Linked DNA regions of Homo sapiens. The protein of the gene in region 2 interacts with the protein of the main gene of each other region in a pairwise test. Each region holds a gene or a part of one and is shown on either strand. Other genes may lie near its edges.

The links.
Region 1: the proteins of EVI5 (region 2) and FAM161A interact in binary tests that used the Homo sapiens proteins (3 or more experiments, as listed by UniProt).

Annotation. Positions count from the first base shown.
Region 1 is NC_000002.12:61,830,061-61,834,345, reverse strand, and holds part of FAM161A (protein FAM161A), read left to right. Parts: intron 1-4,285. UniProt on the Homo sapiens protein: Involved in ciliogenesis.
Region 2 is NC_000001.11:92,508,152-92,513,222, reverse strand, and holds the end of EVI5 (ecotropic viral integration site 5 protein homolog), read left to right. Parts: 3' UTR 1-4,527; downstream 4,528-5,071. UniProt on the Homo sapiens protein: Functions as a regulator of cell cycle progression by stabilizing the FBXO5 protein and promoting cyclin-A accumulation during interphase. May play a role in cytokinesis.

The sequences.
Region 1 (4,285 bases), on a different chromosome or scaffold from region 2:
TTCTCCAGTGTCTGTTGTTCTCATCTTTATTTCCATGTGTACCCAGTGTTTAGTTCCCACTTGTAAGTGAGAACATATGATGTTTGGTTTTCCGTTTCTGCTTTAGTTTGCTTAGGATAATGGCTTCCAGCTGTATCCATATTGTTGCAAAGGACATGATTTCATTCTTTTTTATGGCTGTGTAGTATTCCATGGTGTATGTGTAACATATTTTCTGTATCCAATCCACTGCTGATGGGCTGGGTTGTTACCATGTCTTTGCTGTTGTGAATAGCATCAGCACTTGTTATTGTCTGTCTGATTTTTTTAGAAAAATATTTTTAGAGACAGGGTTTCACTCTGTTGCCCAGGCCAGTGCAGTAGTACAATCATAGCTCACTGGAACCTTGAACTCCTGGGCTCAGATGATCCCCAGTATGAGCATCCCAAGTAGCTGAGACAAAGGCCCACACCATCATGCCCAGCTAATTTTATTTTTTGTAGAGACTGGGTCTCGCTGTATGGCCCAGGCTGGTCGTGAACTCCTGGCCTCAAGTGATCCTCCCACCTCCACCTCCCAAGTTGATGGGATTACAGGCATGAGCCACTGCACCTAGCTTTTGTCTGTCTTTTTGTTATAGTCTTCCTAGTGGGTACAAAGTGGTATTTTATTATTCAGTAACATTCTTTCAACTGTTCTTTTATCTTTTTCATTACAGACTCTATCTACTAGCTTATTGATATGGTAGGTGAGGATTTAGCTGTTTTAACACGTCCTCTCGGAAGCACACTTACCTACCCTTTCAACGTCTTTCCATCTTTCTGTTTCCCAGTCAGCTCTATCACAGTTAGATCGGAATTCAGTGTTATAACTTAGTAAACAATGTTAGCAGCTGAGCCCTATATTATTATCATCACATTTCCTTTTTTTTTTTTTTTTTGAGACAGAGTCTCACTCTGTCACCCAGGCTGGAGTACAGTGTCACAATCTCAGCTCACTGCAACCTCTGCCTCCTGGGTTCAAGCCATTCTCCTGCCTCAGCCTCCTGAGTAGCTGGGATTACAGGTGCGCGCCACCGTGCCTAGCTAATTTTTTTGTATTTTTTAGTAGAGACGAGGTTTCACCATGTTGGTCAGGCTGGTCTCGAACTCCTGACCTGATGATCCGTCTGCATTGGCCTCCCAAAGTGCTGGGATTACAGGCGTGAACCACCATGCCTGGCCCATCACATTTCCTTTAAAAAAATTTTTTCTTGTGTTAATAATTACTAATTTTGTTTGGTCCTCCCCCCACCTTCCCTCATTCCCCACCAATGTATGTATCATTATTATTCTTAGGCTTTTCTGTTAGCTCTCAAAAATCCCCCTCAAACAGTTAAACACATTCGTAATTCATCAGTTCCTTTCCTCCCCTGGAGCCCACAAGTGTCCTGCTCCACTTTGGAATGGTTTCTCTCTAGGCCAGCAGTCCTCAACCTTTTTGGCGCTAGAGACTGGTTTTATGGAAGACCATTTTTCCACAGACCAGGGTTGCGTGGGGTGGGGTGGATGGATCGGGAAATGGATCATTTCAGGATGAAACTGTTCCACCTCACATCATCAGGCGTTAGATTCTCATAAGGAGCATGCAACCTAGATCCCTGGCATGAGCACTTCACGATAGGGGTCACCCTCCTATGAAAATCTAACGCTGTAGGAGGCAGGGCTCAGGCCATAATGCTCGCCCTCCCACTGCTCACTTCCTGCTGTGCAGCCTGGTTCCTAACAGGCCACAGACCCGTACCTAGTTCGTGGTAGGGACCCCTGCTCTAGGCCTCTGGCATAAACGACATCTTAGGACTTTTTCACTGTTATACTGGGGAGTAGTTAGATATTAACCTGGATTTATCTACATTTCTTGTATTTCTTTTAAAATCACTGTTATTTTATTCTAGTTCTGGAAGATTTCCTCAAATTTATCTTCCAAATCTGCATTTTTTGCTTACCTAATGAAAAATGACATAATTTCCAGAATGCTTCCCATTTATTAAATATTCCTTTGGTATTTTTCATGGGTGCAGTACGTTTTTTTTTGTTGTTGTTGGTTTTTTGTTGTTGTTGTTGTTGGTTTTTTTTTGTGTGTGTGTGACAGGGTCTTACTCTGTCCCAGGCTGGAGTGCAGTGGCATGATCTCGGCTCACTGCAACTTTAACCCCTTGGGCTCAGGCAATCTTCCCACCTCAGCCTCCCAAGTAGTTAGGACTACAGGCACAAGCTACCATGCCAGGCTAATTTTTGTATTTTTTGTAAAGACAGGGGTGTTACTGTGTTGTCCATGCTGGTCTTAAGCTCCTGGGCTCAAGAAATCCTCCTTTCTCGGCCTTCCAAAGTGTCGGGATTCCAAGTGTGAGCCACCACACCCAGCCTGTCTTTTATATCTCTGAGCATACTGGTGATATTGTCTCTGTTTCCTTCAAGTTCCTTTTTCTCTTTTTTAGCCTCTTGTCTATCATATTAGAAGCTTTCCTCAGATTATCTTTGGTTGTCTGTTTGCATTTAAGAGGGAGACTGCACAAAGCTATTTGGAAGCTGGTTTATAATGTTTTTTGAGAGGTTGCTGAAAGACAAGCACTCCACTAAGCACTTTATATGCATTGTCTTAACTGACCTTTACACTGCTCCTGTGAGGTTCTTATTTCACAGATGAGGGACATCTTGAGGCTTAGATGATACAACCAGAAGAAGGGGAACCAGGATTCAAACCCAGATCTGACTGTCTTCATGTGATTCTTTTATCTATCATATTGTTTTCCTGCCCCCTTCTCAACAAATGCTTTTTGAATATCAGAAAATCCCTTGAGACCCTTAAAGTCAGATAGAAACAAGACAGACAAATGTAGTCATTCAAGACACACAATTGCAGCAATTACAGATGTGTGTTGAGACAAAATTGTGAATATGATTGTTTTGGAGGTTGGGGGAATGGTCAGATTGATATGTTATTTTTTTCTGTTAACCTCAATTCCAGGGAGCAGGTACATAACCTGGGAATACTAATATTTGTGTTAGTGACATGCGAGGCTTGTTCCAACAGGTCTAGAAAAAAAAAAGGAAAGTAAATAAATGCTAAATTAAAGGAATCATTATGGGTGATACTATAATACAAGAAAGAAAGTATGAAGTATTATTTGGGAAGACCAATATTGAACACATATGCAGCAATGATTTATTATAGTGCTGTTTGTCTAAGAAATATCTTTTTTTTTTTTTTTTTTTGAGAAGGCGTCTCACTCTGTCACCCAGGCTGGAGTGCAGTGGCTCGATCTCAGCTCACTGGAACCTCCGCCTCCCGGGTTCAAGTGATTCTCCTGCCTTAGCCTCCTGAGTATCTGTGATTACAGGCGCGTGCCACCATGCCTGGCTAATTTTTTTTGTATTTTTAGTCAAGACGAAGTTTCATCATGTTGGTCAGGCTGGTCTCGAACTCCTGACCTTGTGATCTGCCCACCTCAGCCTCTCAAAGTTCCGGGATTACAGATGTGAACCACCACATCCAGCCAGAAATATCTTTATATTAGAAAAATTAGGCCAGTGACTCACCCTGTAATCCCAACACTTTGGGAAACTGAGGGGGGGAGGATCATTTGAGGCCAAGAGTTTGAGACCAGTGTCTACTGTTCTCATTTTTTTTTTTTTTTTTTTTTGAGACAGGGTCTTACTCTGTCACCCAGGCTGGAGTGCAGTGGCGTGATCTCGGCTCACTGCAACCTCTGCCTCCTGGGTTCAAGTGATTCTCCTGCCTCAGTCTCCTGAGTAGCTGGGATTACAGGTGCACACCACCATGCCCGGCTAATTTTTTTTGTATTTTTAGTAGAGACGGGATTTCACCATGTTGGCCGGGCTGGTCCTGAACTCCTGACCTCAAGTGATCCACCTGCCTCGGCCTCCCAAAGTACTGGGATTACAGGAGTGAGCCACCGTGCCTGGCCTACTGTTCTCATCTTCATATCTGTGTGTACCCAGTTCCTCCCCATTCAGCTGGTCATTGAGAGACCTGTCAAATTTTCTTCCTAAATAATTTTTGGATCTGCCCTTCACCATCCTTGGTGGTGAAATGCCAGGTGGAACCTTTATTTCCTATCTGAATCATAATAGTTTGATTGATTTTTCTGCCTTGCTCTTTGCAGAACCATTCATTATACCTTCGCCTTACCATTTTCATTCCCCTACTAAAATGTTAACCCTGGGTAGACAATTAATAAGCCTTTATAACAGGGACAATCATCCATTCTCACCAATTCCATTTATTCTCATTTTCAATGAATGA
Region 2 (5,071 bases):
CTGTCTACAGACATTTGACCAAGACATACATCTGATTTACCTTGTGTTTTTTTTTTTATTGTTGTTTTTTTTTTTAAGACAGAGATTCAGTCTGTCACCCAGGCTGGAGTGCTGTGGTGTGATCTTAGCTCACTGCAACCTCCGCCTCCCAGGTTCAAGCAATTTTCCTGCCTCAGCCTCCCGAGTACCTGGGACTATATGTGCGCACCACCACGCCTGGCTAATTTTTTGTATTTTTAGTAGAGATGGGGTTTCACCATGTTGGCTGGGCTGGTCTCGAACTCCTAACCTCAAGTGATCCACCCGCCTCAGCCTCCCAAAGTGCTGGGATTACAGGTGTGAGCCACTGCACCCAGCCTACCTTGTCTGTTTGTGTCTGGGAGGTTTTTTTTTTCTATTTTTATTTTTTCATGAAAATTATTGGTGGGCCACTGAAAGTCCCCACACACAAAGCCTTTATTCTATATAATTTTATAAACACAAATTCATGATTATCTGTTTTGAGAGTTTTAAGTTTTGTTTTAATGTTTAACTTTTATGTGCATATGATGCTTCCATGTGTTGGTTACTAGAGTAGTAGGTTAACTACAGACATACTGTTTTGTTTGTACATATTTATAAATCTGTACCACCTAACATTGAACATCATTTTATATGAAGAACATACATGTTGCAAAATGACTGCTTTCAGCATCTAACAGGACTTCTGTAAATAATAGGTTAAAAGTTAAAAATAAAACACTAATGTTTTAAGAGCTTTAGTATTTTGCTTAGCATTCAATACTAGCAGATTCATAACTGATGCCTGTTCAAAAACACTGTTGGTGGAATCTTTTATTTCATGTGTATGTAACTACTAAATTTTTCATGACTGAAGAGGTTATAGCACATATTAGTTAGTGCTAATATTCTACTGAATATAATTTAAGCAATGGGCTAAGGTCCAAGAAACATAGCAATTATATCTACAAATAATCTATTAACATGATCTTCAGAATCTCTAGTTTTTGTTCTATAGATAAAGCCATAAGAATCCTTTCCTACCAGTTTTTCCTATATCATTTAGATATTATTTCCTAGAAAACAGGATGCCTGTCACTGATAAGTTAGAGAAAACACCCAAATTATACTTGCACTATGGAAAGACGACATGAATATGTTGACTGGGTACTTTCTACTCTCATTTTTGTTAGCCTATGAAAAAAAAAACATTTTGTTAACCTATGGAAAAAGCCTTGGAAGAGAAAAGTAGAATTCAGTATGTATGGAGGCACAGTTTTGCACAGTATGTTGCATGCGGCAAAAAAAAAAATATGAAATAGAGTAGAAGAGATAAAAGTAGTTTTCTGTCAAAAACTAGGAGTTAAGCCTTCAGGTACGTTGTGGACTAGGCTTTCCAGCAAGGTTTTTGTAGCTATTTGCTTGCCTGAGAAATGAAATTGAAAACATACCCCTGCGTGTCTGTCCTTAACACCAGGCTAAATTCTGGTGGTTAAATAACTTATCTGTGGTTACAAGCTAGTAAGTAGCAGAGCCAAGATTTTTTTTAATATAGAGACAGGTGTCTCACTGTGTTGTCCAGGCTGGTCTTGAACTCCTGGCCTCAAGTGGTCCTCCTGCCTCAGCCTCCCAAAGTGTGGGGATTACAGGTGCGAGCTACTGCTCCCAGCAAGAGCCAAGATTTTAACCTAGATCTCCCTAACACCAAAGCTTTTGAAAGGGTTCAGCTGAAGAATTTCTCAATTCTCTGTTTTGTTTTGTTTTTATTTTTGTTTTTTGAGATGAAGTCTCACTGCACTCAGGCTGGAGTGCAGTGGTACGATCTTGGCTCACTGCAACCTCCACCTCCCGGGTTCAAGCGATTCTCCTGCCTCAGCTCCCAAGTAGCTGGGACTACAGGTGCACGCCACCACAACTGGCTAATTTTTGTATTTTTAGTAGAGATGGGGTTTCGCTATGTTGGCCAGGCTGATCTCAAACTTCTGACCTCAGGTGATCCACCCACTTTGACCTCCCAAAGTGCTGGGATTACTAGACGTAAGCCACCACACCTGGCAATTCCCTGCTTTTTTGACAACATAATTTAAATGAATTTGATTTAAATGTTTCCTGAATATATATACAGATAGATAGATGAGTATCAACACTTACAAGCTCTACACAGTCTGTGAGTGTAGATACTACTTACTCGTAGGATTGTCTTGTGCTTTGGGGATTTTTGTTCGGAGTTCTATACTATCAGCCCAGAAAGCTATCAATGTCCAAGTGAAGTGAGATGATGCATGGCCACATTATTGCTTTGACCCTCACATCAAGAAATCTGAATGATCTGGACCAGGGGTCAGCAAAGTGCAGCCTACAAGCTATTGCAGTCAGCTGCCAGTTTTTACTTTTTTAAATAGTTGGGAAAAAAATTCCAAAGACTGATATTTTGTGTCACATGAAAATTATATGAAATTCAAATTGCAGTGTCCATAAGTAAAGTTTTATTGGGGCACACCCATGCTCACCCTTTTAAATATTGTGTATGGCCGCTTTGTGCTACAGTAGCAGAGTTGAGTCATTGCAAGGGAGACCATATGGCCCAGGTAGCCTAAAATATTTATCTGATCCTTTACAGAAAAAGTTTGCTAACCCTTGATAACAGATACTCTAAAATGCAGGTTTTTCTTCTTCAATTTAGCTCAGTGGTAGGTCAAATTGTTTGCTTTTGCTATTAAGCTTATGATTTGGAAACGTAAAATTTCATGGTGGATATTATAATCAGAACTATTCAAAAGGGAAAACATGCCAGCCATTTTATATGATGAAGTCTCTTATTCCATAGAAAACTGTAGAAAGATATCTGTATCTTTGGAGAAGGAGAAAGAAAGGAAAGAACTCCAGAATCCCATCACTGTTCTTTAAAGCATGCATCACAGACCTTTAAGAGTATGCTTTATTGAGTAAAGGTTATAGTTTGACTTTAAGATAAGAAATTTTCTAGAATCATGTTTGAATTCTAAACGTTGATATTCTTAAGTACCATTTCTGATTAGGAATTAGGTGTTAAAAGAATCATGGTAAGGAAACCTTAATCCGTTGAAACTCTTGTAATTTGGACAACAAAAAACTAGAAATAACACTCTTTTCTTTGAAGATCTGATTCAAATACACCTTAGAAGAGTTTAAAATCTCCCAGGCCTTTAGGATGCAATAGGATATTATGCCTTGGTTTGACTCCTTTTCATTCAAATTAATGTAAGTATGTTGTTCAAGACTTTGAAGCATTGAACAATGTTCTCGATGAATTTTATTTAATTACTGACATTTTGTGATATTTGAATGTTATTAAGTTAAACACTTAGAGTTGAGTATATTCAGGGGAGAAAAGTGAATGAAATGACTCATAATAAGAAAGCTTGCTCCCTTGGGACAGTTACCTTCCTGGTGTCATTGCCATCCTGGGTTGACAAGCTGAGAGTAGAGGATACAAGTGATGTGAATAAAATGGAAATTGCATTGAGTTAATGAAACAGACACTTTTAGATCAAGAAAACACTTCAACAGCCTTTTTAGAAATTGGCACACTCCTATAGTCCCACCTACTCAAGAGGCTGAGGCAGGAGGATCACTAGAGTACAGGAGTTTGGGGCTGTAGTGTGTAATGATCACACCTGTGAAAGAATAACCACTGCACTCCAACCTGGGCAACATGGCAAGACCCTGTCTCTTTAAAAAAAAAAAAAATCCTGGGAAAAGAAGTCAAAGATGTAATTTTACACAATTTCTGCCCCCACCGTCTTTTTTGTTTGTTTGTTTGTTTGTTTGTTTTTTGGCTAGATACTAGGTATTCAGTGTTTGCTGAGATGACAGGTTTCTACTAATCAGCCAGTTATTTGGGAAGGAGAAAAACTTTTTCTCAATTCTGAACATGATGCAGCTTGTTAACTCTCCAGATAGTGCCTTTGATTGAAAATAAGGTCTACACCTTTTTAAGTATATTATTTCTGACATCGTAAGAAATAATTTAGTTCCTTATTCTCATTTATCTTTTATATAATGTACTGTAATATTCAGGTTTAAAGTAAAATAAGTATATGAATTATATTTTGGTAAAACTGTTTCATGACCAGCTTGATTAATGTATATTAACATACCAGACATTGACAGCGAACATTTCATGAAATCAGTTATTTACTTACCAAAACAATGAGTTTTAGCTTGAAAGTTACTGCTGCTCTATTATTAACAAAACTAAGTTTTAAAAATTAATTTTAATTCTACTGAAGTTTAATTTCTGGTTAAAGGTATAGTGGATGCTATTTATGATCCAAGTTTTTACATCACATCCATTGATCTGCCTATCCCTTCTTTTTACTCCAAAGAGGAGATGATAGAATAATACATTCAGTATACTACCAAGAAGCAAAGTTATAATGTGTTTCATTTTGCTATTGGAATTTTTTATTGTAACATTGTATGATAACCTGAAATGTTTACTTGTGCCTTTTCTTTAAACAATTAAAGTTTTCCATTTTATAAGAATTTCTGTTTCCTTCAGCTTTTCAACTTTAAAAGAGGAGGGGCATCAAAACACTGTTAACAAATGGGTGGGGCGCGGTGGCTCACACCTGTAATCCCAGTACTTTCGGAGGCCGAGGCGGGCAGATCACTTGAGCTCAGAAGTTCGAGAACAGCCTGGCCAACATGGTGAAACCCTCTCTCTACTAAAAATACAAAAATTAGCCAGGTGTGGTGGTGCATGCCTGTAGTCACAGCTACTCAGGAGGCTGACACAGAAGAATCGCTTGAACCCGGGAGGTGGAGGTTGCAGTGAGCCGTGATCACACTACTGCACTCCAGCCTGGGCGACAGAGCAAGACTCCATGTCAAAAAAAAAAAAAAAAAAAGGTTGGCCTGATGTGAAACGTTCATTAGCAAGGTTTGTGCTCCGAAGGTGCAGGGACTACATCCACCTGGTCCACCCACATATTTTTAGTGCTAAACAGAGAATCTGGCACGTGATTGCATTCAGTAATTTTTTTTTTTTTTTTTTTTTTTTTTTTTTTTTTTTTTTGAGATGGAGTTT